4 linked regions of the Homo sapiens genome follow. The protein of the gene in region 4 purifies or fractionates together with the protein of the main gene of each other region. This does not show direct contact. Each region holds a gene or a part of one and is shown on either strand. Other genes may lie near its edges.

Region 1 (5,065 bases), on a different chromosome or scaffold from region 4:
CGGTTTTGCCAGCGTTCATCCTAAATCCCTCAGAGCCAATGATCCATTACAATGTAGATCCCACTTTGACTTCAGACATTTGGCTGGTGAATATGTTGGCATCAAAACAAGAAAGAAGAGATATTCAGCTTTTGACAAACTGAATTATCATCAAAGAAAGAAGTGGAAATTTCTATGTTAATTAGGAATAGAACCATCTTCACTGATGTTGGGGCATGTAATCATTCAGCAACATATTAAGGGCTAAGATTAGCAAACCAGGAGTATATTGTATTACACTTAATTAAGTCATCAGAATTTTTTAAAGGCAGTGAAACTCCAACAAAGTAAATGAAATTAAGAAGAGTCATTCAAAACTAACATCAACTCTGGAAGTGCAGCTTCTTTATTGCTATCCCACCTCACAAAGGATTTTTAAAACACTAAGCACTTAGATATGCTGTAAATTCAGCAACTTGCACTATGTCTTGTACCCAGCAGATATTCAATAAATGTAGGAGGGAGGGAGGGAAGGAAGGAAGGAGGGCAGGAGGGAAGGAGGGAAGGAGAGAGGGGAGGGAGGGGAGGGAGGGGAGGGGAGGGGAGAAAGGAAGGTTGGTTGTAAACTTCATGACCTAAAAATTATAAATATACACATTTTTCAAATGAAGAAATTGAAACACAATGAGATAAAATAGCTTGTCTCATATAACCCAGCAAAGAATTGTTGGTATTTGGCTTTGAAGTAGAATTACCTGACTATTAAGTTCACTTGATTCATCTCTACAGTGTACTGTAACATAAAGTTAGTTAAGTGTATGGTGATTATTAAGATTTGGGGAGCAACATGGAATGCTGGTTAAAAACTCACTCAGGCCCCTGTAGGGAGACTTAGGTCTTCACTCAGTGGGAAGACTTAGGTCAAGCCCCACTTAGCTAGTTAGCATCTATGTCATCTATGTGTACAACAGAGATAACAATAGAACTCATTTTATCCTGCCACGTGGAATATGCTAAAGGTTTAATAAGTAATAGCTGTTATTATTAAATAATAATGTGTCAAAACTACAGATTATAGGATCATCTAGCTTAGGAAAAATTATGCTCAAAGCCTAGATTTATCAAAAAAACAAGGCTGTAATTTTCCATTAGACATCCACTTCAAAGTCAAGATATCCGTATAATTTTGCCATAATCAAAAATTTTGCTTGTCATTATATTTTTATTTAATTAAATGTCTCAAGTTAATAATGGCAAGGACCACATGATTTTTAAAACACAGTTGTTCTCATTTAGTTCTTCACTGGCAAAAGGAACTTCCTAAAAAATGCATATATAAGGTCTTGTAAATAGTCTACTAACTTAAGATAATCACAAAGAAATGAAATATAGTTAAGACTGAGAAACTGCATGAACCTTCTGACTATTATCCCTCTTCCACCACTAGATTTTTCTTTCCTGCTTTTTTGAAACTTAGATCCAAATCTTAATAGCAGCACTCATTTTCATCATCCTTCAGAAACATCTACTCAATGAAGACAACTGTGAAAAACCATACATAGGATAAGATATATACAAACTTTCAAGCACAAAACAATAATACAATTTCATTATTTCAACCAAAAAATAGAAACATGAAACCCACAACATATAGCAAAGTGATCAAAACAGTCAAGTGAAATTTTAGATATTCTTTACATTACTGGCCATGCATCGTACCTGCGTGCATGTGTGTGTGTGTGGTATTTAGCAATATTTATTTAATTAGGCACTTTTAATTTTAATTATCATTTTTGTTCCCCTAGGTTCTCCTGATCATGTTAGAATTCAGTTTAAAAATATTTGTATTTCGCACATATGGAGGCCTTTGAAATAAAATAGAAAATATGATGAGACTAGCAAATAACAAAAGATGGCCCATTAAATCACTTGGAACAGAAAAAACTCGTGCCAGCTTTTCCTTTGAAATAAAGAGGAAATGGTGCACCACAGGCCCCAGATTGTTTTTCTGAGGTGATAGGATATTATGATTTGTTGTATCTGTTTCCTCAGGAAACAGCAAATGTTGAACAGGTCAATGCTTTTCAGGAATGAAAAAAAATCCAGAAAAAGACTGCCAAATTGGCAAGAACAACTTTCCTATCTTTGAAGAGCATCAACTCGGAAGTTATTTTATTTCCGAATAGCCTTTCTCTTATTGCCAACAGAAATCCATTACAATATATAAGAGCTAAGATTTCTTGTCCCTTTTCACCTTTATTTGCCGTCTTTCAACTGGCAAGAGTCATTTTGACCAGCAGATTAATCAACTGTAAGACAGATCCTCACACAAAGGTAGGTACTTGGAAATATAAACTGAATATTTTTACTTTGAATATTGAAATTTTTCTCAAAGATAACATTTTCAACGATAACATTTTATGGGCTTTTCATAGAACATTCATTATCAGCAAAAACATAAGTAGCTTACATGAAATTGTAAGTCATTAAATGCAATAAATTTTGAAAAATTCTGGTTTTTACAGGTCAGAGTAAAACATTCATGTTGGGCATTTGGGCCAATCGGTCCATCCAAGTACACAATTGACTTTTCCTCCTGATGTACCTTAAAGTTCTTGAAACTTCATAAGGATAGAATAGTCTCAGGTGTACTCTAAAAGACAGAATTGCTCTACAGAATATTTTTATTATTGGTTTTTCTTTTGTTTTTCAAACTTAATTTAAGAATGGATATAGGAAAAGTACTAGTTAAAGGAATAGCCACACCCACATATATATAATTGAATATCCAGTGAAATTTTGTCCATAGGATTCTTTCAAGACTTGCATTGCTCAGACCACACACTCAACCTATGTGCAGAGTTGACTAACAGGAAGCCAATTTGCACCATGGTGTATGGAGTTGCTTTCCCAAAAATCAAGCTATCATGTACTTGAAATATATTGTAAAATTTGACCCAATTGAGAGTAGAATACCTGGACATCTCCATGTTCTTGCCTTGGTCTCTGATATATGGATTTTTGGAAGCACTTTGAGACCACTCATCACAGCCTAAATTAATGTAATAGAATGTTGTTAAAACTAGGAAATATATTATGTGACTCTTCTTTTAGACTATATCCAACAGGGTGATTCCTTTTTTTTTTCCTTATTTTTAAGCTCTTCCAAGCAATAAAATTTGTAACATAAGATCTAGTTAAAATGTTAATATCTCAAACCCATCCATAGAAATCTATAATGTATCTACTATTTTTAAAATATCAAAATGTTCAAATGAAAATAAGTATACATTTTAAAGTAGTTACTTCTAAGGGAAAAACCTTAGTCATAAAAGCTTCTATTGCTCAGAGCAATGTATGAACAACTCTTTGGCATTATCCCCAGGATCAGTTTACAAGTCAAAAATAAAAACTACTTCCACTATTTTGAAGTCAAATTTTATAAGCCTACTAATATTGCCCCACAGTAATACTGAATTCAAAATAACATTAGGCAAATTCCCTAAAAATGCTATAGTAGGATATTTGTATTACATTATATCCAAGTGTTGAGACATTTTAAATAGTACTTTTTAATAAAAAACAATCATACTGATCACCTATTGTGCTTACTTTCAGAGGCAACTGAAAGGATGAAATCACTGACTTGGATCTTGGGCCTTTGGGCTCTTGCAGCGTGTTTCACAGTAAGTATCATTAATCACGATCACACTTCTTTATAGTTTCTCATTAACCATTACTTCAGATTTCTTTTTACATTAATGATGTTACCTTTTCTTATATATTAGTAACTATTAATCATCAATGAAACACTGTTTAGGGCTTAAATTTAAATTTAAAATCTAATTTAAATAACCACACATGTCTGATGGCTGCCATACTGGACAGCTCAAGTCTGTGGTATCAGACTGCATTAAACAGATACGTATAAATGTTAAGTTCCCATACTCTAGTCAGTTACACAGTAGGTAAAACTCTATAAAAATAGATAATCAAAATAAAACCGTTTTCCCAGCATGTAGTTTATGGATCATTTACACCAGAGTCACCTAACTCACTTATTAAAAATATAGTAAAGACCTCATCCAAGCTTCAATAAGAGTATCAGATAATGGGACCTGGAAAGATGCATTTTACTAAGGATCTACAAGTATCTTTGCATGCTAAATTTTGGGAGAATGCTAAGCATTTATATATAAACAGCTACTTTGTATACAAAACCAGGTTAAAGACAAATGAGATACTAAATATCATACAAAATTACAAAAATGTTTTTAAAACACACGTATTTCAAAGTAGTAGAATCATACTCGATTTCAAAGTAGTGTTAGATTAATTCCAGTGACAGAAAGAGAATATTAATTCCAGAGTAATTTCCACCAAAGTACTATAAAATCTATATCAAATTGAAAAATATGAAAGCTGTTTTTTTTAGATTATGACTTCCACAAATCAAGCAACATAAATTTACATCATTCTGAAACATGAAACATAAAATAATTCCTTTTTCATCTACTTTGTTTTTTTTTTTTTTTTTTTTTTTGAAACAGACTCTCGCTCTGTCGCCCAGGCTGGAGTACAGTGGCGCGATCTCGGCTCACTGCAAGCTCCGCCTCCCGGGTTCGCGCCATTCTCCTGCCTCAGCCTCCGGTGTAGCTGGGACTACAGGCGCCCGCCACCACGGCCGGCTAATTTTTTTGTATTTTTAGTAGAGACGGGGTTTCACCGTGTTAGCCAGGATGGTCTCGATCTCCTGACCTCGTGATCCGCCAGCCTCGGCCTCCCAAAGTGCTGGGATTACAGGCGTGAGCCACCGTGCCCGGCCTCATCTACTTTCAAAAAGGAACAAAATCAGGAAATTCTAAGGTTACTGAGGTAGTCTGACCTTGGCTAAATTACTGAGAGCATTATATGTTGACATAATTTTTAATAAACCAATAAAATATATTGATATATTTTAAAGGTAATATCTTAATGGCTTGATTATAAAGCTTATTTTCAATATTTTTATTCCCTCAGAATACAAAAGAAAAACATTTATAATTTCAAAGTATCAGGCTTTTATTATATAAATTTTTTTTTATAA
Region 2 (4,611 bases), on a different chromosome or scaffold from region 4:
CAGAGTCATCAGGTTATCTAAAGCGAAGATGAAGGAAAGAATCTTAAGAGCTGTGAGGCAAAAGCACCAGATAACTTATAAAGGAAAACATGTCAGATTAACAGCAGATTCCTCAGCAGAAACCCTACAAGCTAGAAGAAATTGAGGCCCTACCTTCAGCCTCCTTAAACAAAAGAATCATCATCTAAGAATTTTGTGTACAGCAAAACTAAGCTTCATAAATGAAGGAGAGATACAGTCTTTTTCAGACAAACAAATGCTGAGAAAATTCGCCACTACAAACCCAGCACTGTAAGAAATGCTAAAAGGAGCACTAAATATTGAAACAAATCCTTGAAATACACCAAAATAGAACCTTCTTAAAGCATAAATCTCATAGGACCTATAAAACAAAAACACAATAAATAAATAAATAAATAAAAACCAAGGTATTCGGGCAACAAATAGCAAGATGAATAGAATAGTACCTCACATCTGAATACTAATGTTGAATGTAAATGGCCTAAATGCTCCATTTAAAAGATTCAGAATGGCAGAATGGGTAAGAAGTCACCAACCAAGTATCTGCTGTTTTGAAGAGACTCACCTAACAAATAGGACTAACATAAACTTATGGTAAAGGGCTGGGAAAAGATATTCCATGCAAAGGGACACCAAAGTGAGCAGGAGTAGCTATTCTTTTTGTTTGTTTTGTTTTGTTTGAGACAGAGTCTCACTCTGTCGGCCAGACTGGAGTGCAATGGCTCAATCTTGGCTCAATGCAACCTCCACCTCCCAGGTTCAAGTGATTCTTGTGCCTCAGCCTCCTTAGTAGCTGGGATTACAGGTGCAGGCCTGTCTTATAGAGGAGTAGCTGTTCTTATATCAGACAGAACAAACGTTAAAGAAACAGCAGTTAAAAAAGAGAAAGACGGACATTATGTAATGATAAAAGGACTTGCCCAACAGGAAAATATCACAATTATATATATATATATATATATATATATATATATATATATATATATATATGCACCTAATGCCAGAGCTCCCAAATTTATAAAACAATTACTGTTACACCTAAGAAATGAGATAGACTGCAACACAGTAATAGTGGGGAACTTCAATACTCCACTGTCAGCAATAGATAGGTAATCAAGACAGAACATCAACAAAGAAACAATGGATTTAAACTATAACCTAGAACAAATGGACTTAAGGGCTATTTGTAGAACATTCGACCCAACAACTGCAGAATATACATTCTATTCATCAGCACATGGAACATTCTCCAAGAGAGACCATATCATAAGCCACAAAACAAGTTTCAATAAATTTAAGAAAACTGAAATTATATCAAGTACTCTCTCAGACCACGGTGGAATAAAATTGGAACTCAATTCCAAAAGCAACCCTCAAAACATACAAACACATGGAAATTAAATAACCTGCTCCTGAATGATCACTGGGTCAAGAATGAAATCACGATGGAAGTTAAAAAATTATTTGAACTGAATGAAAATAGTAGCACAACCTATCAAAACCTCTGGTATACAGCAAAGGCAGTGCTAAGAGGAAAGTTCATAGCATTAAATGACTACATCAAAAAGTCTGAAAGAGCACAAATAGACAATCTAAGGTCACACCTCAAGGACTGGAAAAACCAGAACAAACCAAACCCAAACATAGCAGAACAAAAGAAATAAAGATCTGAGCAGAACTGAATGAAATTGAACCAAAAAAATACAAAAGATAAACAAAAAGCTGATTCTTTGAAAAGATAAATAAAACTGATAGACTATTAACAAAATTAACCAAGAAGATCCAAATAAGCTTCAGTTAGAAATGAAACAAGATATTACAACCAATACCACAGAAATACAAAAGATAATTCAAGGCTACTGTGAACAGCTTTACATACTCAAGCTAGAAAACCTAGAAGAGATGGATAAATTCCTGGAATTATACCACCCTCCTAGATTAAACCAGGAAGAAAGAGAAACTCTGAACAGACCAATAACAAGCAGTGAGATTGAAATGGTAATTTAAAAAACTGCCAACAAAAATAAGCCCAGAATCAGATGGATTCACAAATGAATTCTATCAGACATTCTAAGAACTGGTATCAATCCTATCAACATTATTTCACAAGACAGAGAAAGAAGGAATCCTCCCTAAATCATTCTGTGAAGCCAGTATCACCCTAATACCAAAACCAGGAAAGGACATAACAAAAAAGAGAAAACTATAGACCAACATGTTTGATGAATATAGATGCAAAAATCCTTAACAAAATACTAGCTAACCAAATCCAACAGCATATCAAATAGATAGTCCACCATGATCAAATGGGTTTCATACTGGGGTGGTTTAACATACACAAGACATTAATGGGATACACCACATAGAATTAAAAACAAAAAATCACATGATCATCTCAACAGACACACAAAAAACATTTGACAAAATCCAGCATCCCTTTATGATTAAAACCCTCAGCAAAATTGGCATAGAAGGGACATACCTTAAGGTAATGAAAACTGTCTATACTGAATGGGAAAAAGTTGAAAGCATTTCCCCTGAGAACTGCAACAAGACAAGGATGCCCACTTGCATTCAACATAGTACTGGAAGTCCTCGCCAGAGCAATCAGACAAGAGAAAGAAATAAAGGGCATCCAAATCAATAAAGCGAAGTCAAACTGTCGCTGTTTGCTGATGATGTAATCATATACCTAGAAAACCCTAAAGACTCCTCCAAAAAGCTGCTAGAACTGATAGATGAATTTAGCAAAGTTTCAGGATACAAAATTAATGTAAACAAATCAGTAGCTCTGCTATAAACCAACAGCAACCAAGCTGAGAATCAAATCAATAACTCAACCCCTTTTATAATAGCTGCAAAAAATATATATACTCAGAAATATACCTAATCAAGGAGGTGAAAGACCTCTGCAAGGAAAACTACAAAACACTGCTGAAAGAAATCATAGATGACACAAACAAATGGAAACACATCGCATGCTCATGGATGGGTAGAATCAATATTGTGAAAATGACCATACTGCGAAAAGCAATCCACAGATTCAATGCAATTCCCACCAAAACACCACCATCATTCTTCACAGAACTAGAAAAAACAATCCTAAAATTCATGTGGAACCAAAAAAGAATCTGCAGAGCCAAAACAAGACTAAGCAAAAAAAAAAAACAAATCTAGAGGCATCCCATTACCTGACTTCAAACTATACTATAAGGCCATAGTCACCAAAACAGCATGGTACTGGTATAAAAATAGCACATAGACCAGTGGAACAGAATAGAGAACCCAGAAATAAACCCAAATACTTACACTGATCTTTGACAAAGCAAACAAAAGCATAAAATGGGGAAAGGACACCCTATTCACCAAATGGTGCTGGGATAATTGGCAAGCCAAATGTAGATGATGAATAAGACTGAATCCTTATCTTTCACCTTATACAAAAATCAACTCAAGGTGGATCAAATACTTAAATCTAAGACCTGAAACCATAAAAATTCTAGAAGATAACAGTGGAAAAACCTTTCTAGACATTGGCTTAGGCAAAGAGTTCATGACCAAGAACCAAAAAGCAAATGCAACAAAAACAAAGATAGATCGGGCTTAATTAAACTAAAAAACTTCTGCACAGCAAAAGAAATAATCAGTAGAATAAACACACAACCCACAGAGTGGGAGAAAATTTTTGCAATCCATACATCTGAAAAAGGACTAACACCCAGAATCTACAAGGAACTCAAACAAATCAGCAAGAAAATAACAATCCCATCAAAAATTGGGCTTAGGACATGAATAGACAATTCTCAAAAGACATACCAAAGTCCAACAAACATATGAAAACGTACTCAACATCACTAATGATTAGGGAAATGCAAATCAAAACCACAATGTGATACCACCTTACTCCTGCAAGAATGGCCATAATTTAAAAATTAAAAAATAATCGATGTTGGCATGGATGTGGTGAAAAGGCAACACTGTTACACTGCTGGTGGGAATGTAAACTAGTACAACCACTATGGAAAACTGTGGAGATTCCTTAAAGAACTAAAAGTAGAACCACCATTTGATCCAGCAATCCCATTACTGGGTATCTACCCAGAGGAAAAGAAGTCATAATATGAAAAAGATATTTGAACACATGTTTACAGCAGTACAATTCACAAGTGCAAAAATATGGAACCAGCTCAAATGCCCATCAATCAATGAGTGGATAAAGAAATGTAGTATATATACCATGGAATACTACTCAGCCATAAAAAGGAATTAAATAATGGCATTTGCAGCAACCTGGATGGAGACCATTATTCTAATTGAAGTAATTCACAAATGGAAAACCAAACATGGTATGTTCTTACTGTTAAATGCGAGCTAAGCTATGAGGATGCAGACATAAGAATGACACAATGAACTTTGGGGATTCAGGGGAAAGGGTTGGGGGGAGGGGTGAGAGATAAAAGCCTATACATTGGGTATAGTGTACACTGCTCAAGTGATGGATACACCGAAATCTCAGAAATCATCTAAGGAACTTATTCACGTAACACACACCTACTGTTCTTAAAAACCGATTGAAATCAAAAATGACAA
Region 3 (4,611 bases), about 15 Mb from region 4:
AACCCCATCTCTACCAGAAAACACAAAAATTAGCCAGTTGTGGTAGCACACGTCTGTAATCCCAGCTACTTAGGAGGCTGCGGCAGGAACTGCTTGAACCCGGGAGGTGGAGGTTGTAGTGAGTGCAGATCGTGCTACTGCACTCCAGCATGGGCGACAGAGCAAGACTTGGTCTTTAAAAAAAAAAAAAGAAAATCATACATGTAGATACTGTATATTAAAGATGTCAGCCTATGACTAATCTTGAACGCTGTCACATGTGTTTCAGCCTTCACATAGACAGGTGACCCGGGGTGAAGCCGTGAAGCTAAGAGAAAGAGAAAAGGAGAAAGGACGGGGAGAAGATGGCAGGGGGAGGGAGACAGACAGAGAAAAAGCACACACACACAAGCATAGAGTATAAAGGTGAGAACAAGCCGGCACGGTAGCTCACGCCTATAATCCTAGCACTTTGGGAGGCCGAGGTCAAGAGATTGAGACCACCCTGGCCAACACGGTGAAACCCTGTCTCTACTAAAAATACAAAATTAGCTAGGTGCGGTGGCATGCGCCTGTAATCCCAGCTACTCCGGAGGCTGAGGCAGGATAATCGCTTGAACCCAGGAGGCGGAGGTTGCAGTGAGCCAAGATCGTGCCACTGCATTCCAGCCTGGCGACAGAGCGAGACTCCATCTCAAAAAATAAATAAATAAATAAATAAATAAATAAATAAATAAATAAAGATAAGAATAAAAATACAGGTGAGAACAAAGATGGGGCCAGAAGGTGTGGGTTTGCTTCTCCATTTGGATTTGGTGAATACTTAGTAAACAATTTCTATGGGTGCCTTTTTAAAAAAAATCCATCCAAAGGGGCTGAAGATTACTGAGGTGTTACAGGCCAAGTTCTTCAGAAATAAAGGCACCAGAAAAAAACACACACAAATCAGGTGCCAGGTGAAACGAAAAAGGGATGCTTCCAAGCTGCTATGCTTCTAATTATTAACCACATATTCTTCTAGAGCAGCTACTTTCAGTACTGACTCAGACACCTCACATCCAGCGAGACCGGTCCACCTTAGATGTGGCTTGGTGGAAAAGGACCACTGGTCTCTCAGTTTCCTCATCTGTGAAAAAATAAGAACCAGAAAGATGACCCTGTGCACTTCCTGAAAGGGCTGCTGTGAGGACTGGAGGGGAAGACTGCTATGGAAACTCGCAGGTAGGCACTTGCAGCTTCTCCACTGTTTGTCCACAATCTGTTGAACCGGTTGGTTTCTGGTGGCTTCTAAGCACCTGTAATTTAAATGAACACTCCCTCCATTCCATCATCATCCACAGCCACTGATGAAACTTTTCTTTTTTTTTTTTTGAGACAGAGTCTCACTCTGTTGCCCAGGCTGGAGTGCAGTGGCGCGATCTCGACTTACGGCAAGCTCTGCCTCTGGGGTTCACGCCATTCTCCTGCCTCAGCCACCCGAGTAGCTGGGACTACAGGTGCCCGCCACCACGCCCAGCTAATTTTTTTGTATTTTTAGGAGAGACGGGGTTTCACCATGTTAGCCAGCATGGTCTTGATCTCCTGACCTCGTGATCCGCCTGACTTGCCCTTTGAAAGTTCTGGGATTACAGATGTGAGCCACCGTGCCTGGCCAAAACTCTTCTTTTTTAAAAGACAGGGTCCTGCTCTGTCACCCAGGCTGGAATACAGTGCCTCAATCACAGTTCACTGTAGCCTTGACCTCCCAGGCTCAAGCGATCCTTCTGCTTCAGTCTCCCAAGTAGCTGAGACTACAGGTACATGCTACTACGCATGAACCCTCTCACCTGTGTTTCAGCCTTCGGATAGACAGGTGACCTGGGCTGAAGCCGTGAAGCTAAGAGAAAGAGAAAAGGAGAAAGGGCGGGGAGAAGATGGCAGGGGGAGGGAGACAGACAGAGAAAAAGCACACACACACACACAAACACACACACAAGCATAGAGTATAAAGGTGAGAACAAGCCGGCATGGTAGCTTTAAATTTTTTATTTTTAAATTTTTTGTAGAGATGGGTCTTGCCATGTTACCCAGGCTGGCCTTGAACTCTTAGGCTTGAGTGATGCTTCTGCCTCTGCCTCTTGAAGTGTTGGGATTACGGGTGTGAGCCATCACGCCTGGCCCCGATGAAACTTTTAAACCGTGAGCTCTGTCTCTACTCTGATGGGGGGGTCACCACTAATCAGACCTGTCAGAGAGGGACCCTCGTGCACTTGACACATAATCTTTGGTTGTAGTCACCAAGTGAAGCTGGCAGGGTTTTGCTGAAATTATATCCCCTTCGTATTTCCATGAAAATACAAAAATTACGTGGGCAGTTTTGTCTTGGCCATCTCGCTCAGGGAGCCGAATCCGTATAAAGAAGTCCTCCTCTCACCAGGACACCTGATTAGGAAGGTCTGGCCCTCTCCTAACAGTGGGATGTCAACACAATTTGTTAGATATTTTGGCAGAGATGTGGAGAGAGAAAAATCAGGTTTCTAAAAGATTGTAATCACTGATTATCTTGTCATAAGGAGCCGTTCTTTCTGCTCTTTAATAAAAGACCTTGCAAATATTAAAAAAGTATAACTACACTTTTTTTTGCCTAAGTAGTGTGTCAATTTTGAAACTGAACATCTTTGACCAAATCCTGTATTTCTCAGGAACGGAGGACACTCCACTGGGTCAGACCCTATCCACCTGGGCCAGGGTCCAGTAACCAATGGTGCCCCCACCCAGGATGTGCCTGGACCACATGCCCCCTCCCTGATGTCAAGTGTTAAAGGCGAGGTGCAGTCCAGCTTCTACAGGAGCCACTTATGGCTTTGTCTTCACAAGTTAGTTCTCATCCCTAAAAAATCCCCTTGCAATACCTGTTTACACCACCTCTTAAACGCCCCTTTTATGCAGTGCTCCTCACCCTGGTCCTAACACAGTCATACCACAATCCACTTGCAGTGCCCATCGCCAAACTCCTCTAGGCCATTCGCTGTTTCCTACCTCCTGATCCCGTGATTCCTTCAGTCTTTGCTTTTCCACATTGAAGAGTCCTGCTCTTTTGTCTGACTCAGTTCCCTTTTCTGGATCTTGGCCAATTCTAAGAGATCCCTTTGAAAGCATGATCTGAAGTCCATAGAGTATTCCTGATGAGGCGCATACAGTTTTACATAAAGGTGGAATGATGCATGGTTTTGTACTCAAAGCCTTTTTGGTAAAAAGAGCAAACCTGGCTGACATCCTTTAGGAACTTCCAACTCTCATATTCCTTTCTTTTCAAACAAACACACACACACACACTCTCTCTCTCTCCCATAGGGAGAGTCTCCATCTCTCTCAGTTTTCCATACTTAAAGGCATCCTGGACCAATGTGTGCTAATACCTGCTGTATGGCAAGCCACACTCTACACAAGAGATACTACTTTTCCTTCCTAACTATGAGGTAGGGGGTATCATCCCCTTATGTAGAGGACACAGAGGCTCAGAAAGGTGAAATAGCTTGCCCAAATCAGGGAGCAAGGTGGAACCGGTACCTGAATGCACATTAGGCTGGTAACCAATCCAGAGCTCTTTCCCCAAAGTAATCTGCTGCCACCAGCCAATCTGGAGATCTTACCTTCATAGAAAAACACAAAATAAAATCTGCCCCAGCACTGATCACTAAGGAAGTGTTCCTTCTTTAGAGAAGTACTGTACATCTTTACCCTTTATTTCCTTTCTCTAAGTTAACTGCCTACCCACAAAAAGATAACACATTAGTACCACAGTGACTTCATTTTTATAGTTTAAAATGTAGAACTCTAGCAAAGGAGTTTAAAAAGTTAAAAATATTGCATTTAGCAGTTGCTTTGTATCCCACTTGTTTACAACCCTCCAAAGAACCTTCGTCAGTTAGAAATTATATCATCACCACCACCATCCAGGCTATTTTTGTCTTGAGCAAGCACATCACCACTGGCTTCACCTGTTTGCCTGGTTAAGCTCTGAAATTAACTCAACTCCAATTTTCTGTGTCCTATTTCTAGCACTTGTTATAAACAAGGATCACAGTTTATTAATCTAGTCTTTTAGCATTAAAAAAAAAATCGGGGCTCGGCGCTGTGGCTCATGCCCATAATGCCAGTACTTCGGGAGGCCGAGGTGGGAGGATCACTTGAGCCCAGGAGTTTGCGACCAGCCTGGGAAACATGGCGAGAACTTGTCTCTACAAAAAAAAAAAAAAAAAAAAAAAAAAAAAGTAAAAAATTTAGCAGGGCATGGTGGCACACAACTGTGGTCCCAGCTACTCGGACTGCTGAGGTGGGAGGATTACCTGAGCCTGGGAAGTCAAGGATGCAGTAAGCCATGTCCGTGATACTGCACTCCAACCCTTTCTCAAAAAAAAATCAAGAAACCAAACAAGAACAACAACAACAACAACAACAACAAAAAACATAAGGAAACAATGGCTTTCAGGCTCCTTATGAGACTGAGTTCCCATTTTTGTTTCAGACTTGTGTAATTATTCATTTAGCTAATGAAGTTTGGGCCAACCATATTGCCTCTGTTATTCCTAAGCACAAGTTACCTCAGGCAGGGAGCCTCTTCCTTTCCATAACACCCAGCTTAATGCCAAT
Region 4 (5,503 bases):
GCTCATGCCTGTAATACCAACACTTTGGGAGGCTGAGGTAGGTGGATCATGAGGCCAAGAGATCAAGACCATCCTGGCCAACATGGTGAAACTCCATCTCTACTAAAAATACAAAAAAAAATTAGCTGGGTGTGGTGGTGCTCACCTGTAATCCCAGCTTCTCAGGAGGCTGAGGCAGGAGAATCGCTTGAACCCTGGAGGTGGAGGTTGCAGTGAGCTGAGATCACGCCTCTGCACTCCAGCCTGGGCGTGGAGTGAGAGTGAGACTGTCTCAAAAAAAAAAAAAGAAAGAAAAACAAAACCATGGCAACTTCCACATGAGACTTACTTACATTAGGTCTTCTATTGTTACTTTAACAAATTGCCACAATTGTAGCGGCTTAAAACATAATGTTGTCATCTGACGGTTCTATAGGTCTTAAGTCCGCCTGGTCTCACTGAGCTAAAATTAAGGCATCAGCAGGGCTACGCTCCTTCTGGGAGGCTCTAGGGGAGAATCTACTTCCTTGCCTTTTCCAGCTTCTAGACAGCACACACATTCCTTGGCTTCTGACCCTTCCCTTCCCATCTTCAAAACCAGCAGTGTCTAGTCAAGTCTTTCTTAAGTCTCTTTGATGTGGACTCTTTTTTGCCTTCCTCTTCCACATTTAGGGATCTTTGTGATTCCTCCGGCCCACCCAGAAACACGGGATCCTCTTCCTGTTTTAAGGTCAGCTGATTAGCAAACTTAATTCCCTTTTGTTTCGTAACCTAACAAATACACAGGTTCTGAGGAGATGTGGTAGGAAGGGGTGTTATTCTGCCAACTTCTTTTGTGAGGACTGTGTCTATTTGGCAAATTTTTTTTTTTTTTTGGAATGGGGTCTTGCTCTGTCACCCAGGCTGGAACACAGTGGTGCAATCATGGCTCACTGCAGCCGTGATGGAGGGTGGTGCTCAAACCAATGTTAATTTACAAAGGATGGGAGCTCAGAGTGATTCTCCCAAGACAAGACTGCCAGAGGGTGGGGTCCTGCTCATCTGAGAGATGGTGATCTGCACTGGCAGAAAGCAAAAGGACAAGATTAAGTCCATTCTGAAGACACCCAGCATTGTGGTGTCTTGGCTGCCCAACCTCCACTGGTGAGACGTAAAGTTCTTATGTATATAGAAAAGCAATAAAGCTCCCCCTGTGCAAATGGAACTCCTAAGCCAGTGGTGATGTTGAGTTAGAAAGTCACAGCCTATTACAGACAGAATTTACACCAGGGGCAAGGCCTGACCATCACACCCTCATGAGAGCTACCAGTCACCAGGGCTTGGATGGGAGCAACACAGCGGACATATGATCACCTCTCCACAATCACCCAAAGACAGTTTTTTTTTGTTTGTTTTTGAGACAGAGTCTCATTCTGTTGCCCGGGGCTAGAGTGTGCAGTGGCACCATCCCAGCTCACTACAACCTCCACCTCCCGGGTTCAAGCGATTCTCCTGTCAGCCTCCTGAGTAGCCGGGATTACAAGCCCGTGACACCACACCCACCCAGCTAATTTTTGTATTTTTAGTAGAGACGGGGTTTCACCATGTTGGTCAGGCTGGTCTCGAACTCTTGACCTCGTGATCCGCCCACCTTGGCCTCCCAAAGTGCTGGGATTACAGGCGTGAGTCACCGCACCTGGCAGAGCACAACCTTTTTAACAGAGCTAAGGCAGGCCAACGTCAGGGTGACCTCTTGGCAAGATAAAAACTATGAGTAGTAAACGGCCGATTCCAGCTACTCAGGAGACTGAGGCACAAGAATCGCTTGAACCCAGGAAGCAGAGGTTACAATGAGCCGAGATCACGCCACCACACTCCAGCCTGCGCGACCGTGAGACTCCATCTCAAAAAAAAAGAAACGAACGGCTGGTTCCTGTTTACACCAGGCACATTCCTGTAGTGTTGCTCAAGGTCAGGAGGGATTTGTTTCTCCATCAAAGGAGGAGGTGCCCAGAAGGCACTCACTCAAATCCAGAACACTGCCTCTTGGGCTTTCCACGGCCTCTCCCATTATGTATCTCAAGGTTGAATCCAGGAAAGAAAGGCAGGACAAGTTCACGTCCTGAGGGAAGTGGCCCAAGTAGGTCCTTGTAGCACATACTTGTCCAACTATTGACCTGGCCAATGCTTGCGGATCAGGGTTCAGAGCCAGGGAAACTGCCTGAAGTGCCTGCCTCACCTCTGCCCAATGGGCAGCTGTGGACACCATGGCCACTTCACCAGCATCCACTCTTCTTGACTGAAGGGAATCACCAGCCTTCCCATGACAGGGGCGGGTGCAGCTATGGGCAGATGACTCATTGCCCAGCAATGGAGGCTTCTGGAAGTTTCCTTGAGACACAAAAAGGCTTTTCTTCCTCTGGAATGTTCTAGGGTCTTGATATGCTGCCTGGAACTGTTACTGCCATCTTTGTACTAGCCTTGATGAAGCCAACACTGGAGATGATGGAGAGAATGCTTCCTTGGCGAGCTGTTGAACCAGGCCCTAATCAGGCCTTCCTGCCACGTGAGACTGAACTTTCTGGCCATCGAGGCCTGCCTGGGCTGGGATGTCTGTAGGAGGCATGTTCAGGCCAAACGATCGTGAAAATGTCCCAGTCAGAACCTGTATTTTGGGATGCAAAAAGCTAGGTGAGTGGAAAGAAGGTGGTCACAGATGGTCACATGCGACTTGGGCCACTGGACCTGGAGCTCTTTGAGGCTTGCTGTAGAGTCCAGGCTTGGAAACGCTGTCCCCACAGCCGATGAGGCAACTTCCCGTGTCATCTCCACACGTTCATCTCCTCCTGGCATTCAATATCCACCTACAGAAGTCACCTGGGATTCTCTTCCTTGTGATAAAAAAGAATCTCATCAGACACATCCCTGGGGCTGGGCACAGTGGCTCACACCTGTGATCCCAGCTCTTGGGGGCTGAGGCAGGAGCATGAGTTGAGTCCAGGAGTTTGGGACTAGCCTGGACAATATAGTGAGACCCCATCTCTACAAAAAATTTTAAACACTAGCTGGTTGTTGTGGTGCACACCCACAGTCCCAGCTACTTGGGAGGCTGAGGTGGGAGGATCACTTAAGCTGGATAGGTAGTGGTTGCAACAAGCCGTGATATGCCACTACACTCCAGCCTGGGTGACAGAGTGAGAGCCTATCTCAAAACACACACACACGTCCCTGGGATCTGCCATTGATTCATTTGCGGGACTAACCACTCTTCCTAAAATGCCTTGTTCAGAATCCAGTCAAAGCACAAAAATCCTACCTCAGCACTTAGGGCCGAAGGGACACCAGTGGAAAAGGCAGGACTGGTTTAGAGGCACATTTCCCAGCAGCAGCAGCTCAGTCACATGTGTTTGGTAACAACTCAGACACCTCTCTGCCTACAGCTGCTCTATGACAGGGGAAAGGAAAAGGAAGGAAAAGGAGTTTGCGATTCTCCGTTCCTCATTCACTCCACTTTTTATCAGAGATGCAGACTTGTCATAAAACTTTTTCCTCCATCTAAAGACATTTCAATCCCCAACGAGGATTCTGGTGGAAATTCCCTAAAGGGGACATTCAGAGTGGCGAATAGTGAACTTAGGGCTTCGGGTACAAAAGTACAACACCCTGCACTTAGTGGCTGGGTGACCCCAGGCAATTTTATTACTTTATCCCTGAACCTCAGTTGCCTCATCTATAAGATGGGGCTAATAATAGCACCCATTTCATAATTATGAAGATTAAATACATTAAGGAAAACACTAGTATGTCCCTAGTACCTGCTAAACACTCAACAAAAGTTAACTGTACATACTGATGTCTCAAACAGGGACGGAATGTTTAACACAGAAAACAGGAGGTTTTAGCACTCACTCGTTCTCCTGGCTCCCGAAATATGAGCTGCCCTGCCCCAGTTCATCCAAGCCCATCAATATAGTTGTCCTCGTCCTTAATCTCCACAGGTGTTCAATGTGAGCCAACTGTCAGATGGCTTTCATTTGCACAACTGAATAAACCATTTATGCCTAGTGTTCCATTACTGGAACGCTAAGCTTATGGGAGTTATTTATATCTTACTGCTCGAGGTCCTCACCAAGATCTGATTTTTTCACAAAAAAAATTTGTAATCTCCAGCATAAATGGAATAATCAAAGCAATTGTGGCAGTTTTGGGGGGACAAAACTCTAGAGTTTAATCTTCCAGCTTGACTGACTTGGAAGCGTTCCTGTCAATGTAAAAGATCTTGTTGGGGGCGGTGGAGAAGCCGAGGCCGGCTCCCCGGCTGTACTTCCAGCTCATGGCCCGGTCGTAGTCCCGCTGCAGATTCTGCTGCAGGCTGTCAGCCGCCTTCTTGCCGAGGGCCATGTTGGGCCTTGCAATCGTGCTGGCGGGGCGGCTGAACGAAGGGGACAGGTTTTTGAAGCCACCCATAAGTCTGAGAAATTTCAGTTTTTGGTCCTCGTTCTCAAAACCAGCAGTATCCCACTGGCCAAACTGGGTTCCCTGTGAGGAGAGGAAAAAGGTGGCTATTTTCCTTGAGTTCAAAGCCCTTTCCTTCCCTTGACCCCCACCCTCATCAGGGAGGGCCCAGCAGATTAGATGGCTGCTGTGTACCAGGCACAGTGCTAATAAGCTCAACAACGGATTATTCCGTTAATCCTAAAGACAGCCCTATGAGAAACACTGTTGTTATTCCCATTGCACAGAGGAGAAAATAGAGGTCTGCAGCTTAGCTGGAGACAGAAACCTAACTAGTGACCCCCAGAATTCCAGCCCAGGTCCAGCCAACACCACTGCCCACCTCTGCACAGAGCTGCCTTTCTGCCTTCCTCCTCCTTTCCTAACTCATGGCACACGGCACAGTGTGCCTCACTTCACAACAGCGCACTCCCCCCACCACCCTACACTAAGCATTTCCCCCCACCTCCCTACACAGTGCACCTCCCCTCCCCCACCTCCCTACACAGCACACTCCCCCACCACTCTACAGAGCACACTCCCCCCACGACCCTACACAGAGCACTCCCCCCACCTCCCTACACGGCGCACATGGCGCACCTCCTCCCACCACGCTACACAGCACACTCTCCCCCTACCATCCTACAAAGCGCACCTCCCCTAACCACGCTACACAGTGCACTCCCCCCACCACCCTACACATCGCACTCCCCCCACCTCCCTACACAGCACACTCCCCCACCTCCCTACATAGCACTTCCCCCACTCCCTATACAGCGCACCTCCCCCCACCTCCCTACACAGCGCACCTCACCCCACCATGCATCTCACAAGACAGCACACCTCCCCCACCTCCCCACAGGGCGCACCTCCCCTGCAACACAGGGCACCCCACAGCCCAGCAGCCGGGCGCACTCACCCAGCAGCCTAACGTTTGGGTGAATTGGAGGGTGGGAGAGGGCGAGTGGGAATCTGAAGTGTGCTTCTCAGAAGCACTGTTTTATGGCGGGAACGGGTGCGGGCCCACAGGGGTAAAAGGTCACACAGCCAA

Evidence for each region. The genes of interacting proteins can lie anywhere in the genome.
Region 1: the proteins of KNOP1 (region 4) and SMR3B purify together in Homo sapiens (co-immunoprecipitation; one large-scale study listed by IntAct). This does not show direct contact.
Region 2: the proteins of KNOP1 (region 4) and PDGFRL purify together in Homo sapiens (co-immunoprecipitation; one large-scale study listed by IntAct). This does not show direct contact.
Region 3: the proteins of KNOP1 (region 4) and GLYR1 purify together in Homo sapiens (affinity purification with mass spectrometry; one large-scale study listed by BioGRID and IntAct). This does not show direct contact.

What each region holds. Positions count from the first base shown.
Region 1 is NC_000004.12:70,380,900-70,385,964, forward strand, and holds the start of SMR3B (submaxillary gland androgen-regulated protein 3B precursor), read left to right. Parts: upstream 1-2,231; 5' UTR 2,232-2,313; intron 2,314-3,597; 5' UTR 3,598-3,611; coding exon 3,612-3,665; intron 3,666-5,065.
Region 2 is NC_000008.11:17,635,139-17,639,749, reverse strand, and holds part of PDGFRL (platelet-derived growth factor receptor-like protein precursor), read right to left. Parts: intron 1-4,611.
Region 3 is NC_000016.10:4,837,255-4,841,865, forward strand, and holds part of GLYR1 (cytokine-like nuclear factor N-PAC), read right to left. Parts: intron 4,137-4,611; exon of another isoform or gene 2,998-4,136; intron 2,426-2,997; exon of another isoform or gene 1,989-2,425; intron 1-1,988. UniProt on the Homo sapiens protein: Cytokine-like nuclear factor with chromatin gene reader activity involved in chromatin modification and regulation of gene expression. Acts as a nucleosome-destabilizing factor that is recruited to genes during transcriptional activation.
Region 4 is NC_000016.10:19,702,725-19,708,227, forward strand, and holds part of KNOP1 (lysine-rich nucleolar protein 1), read right to left. Parts: intron 4,498-5,503; coding exon 4,186-4,497; 3' UTR 1-4,185.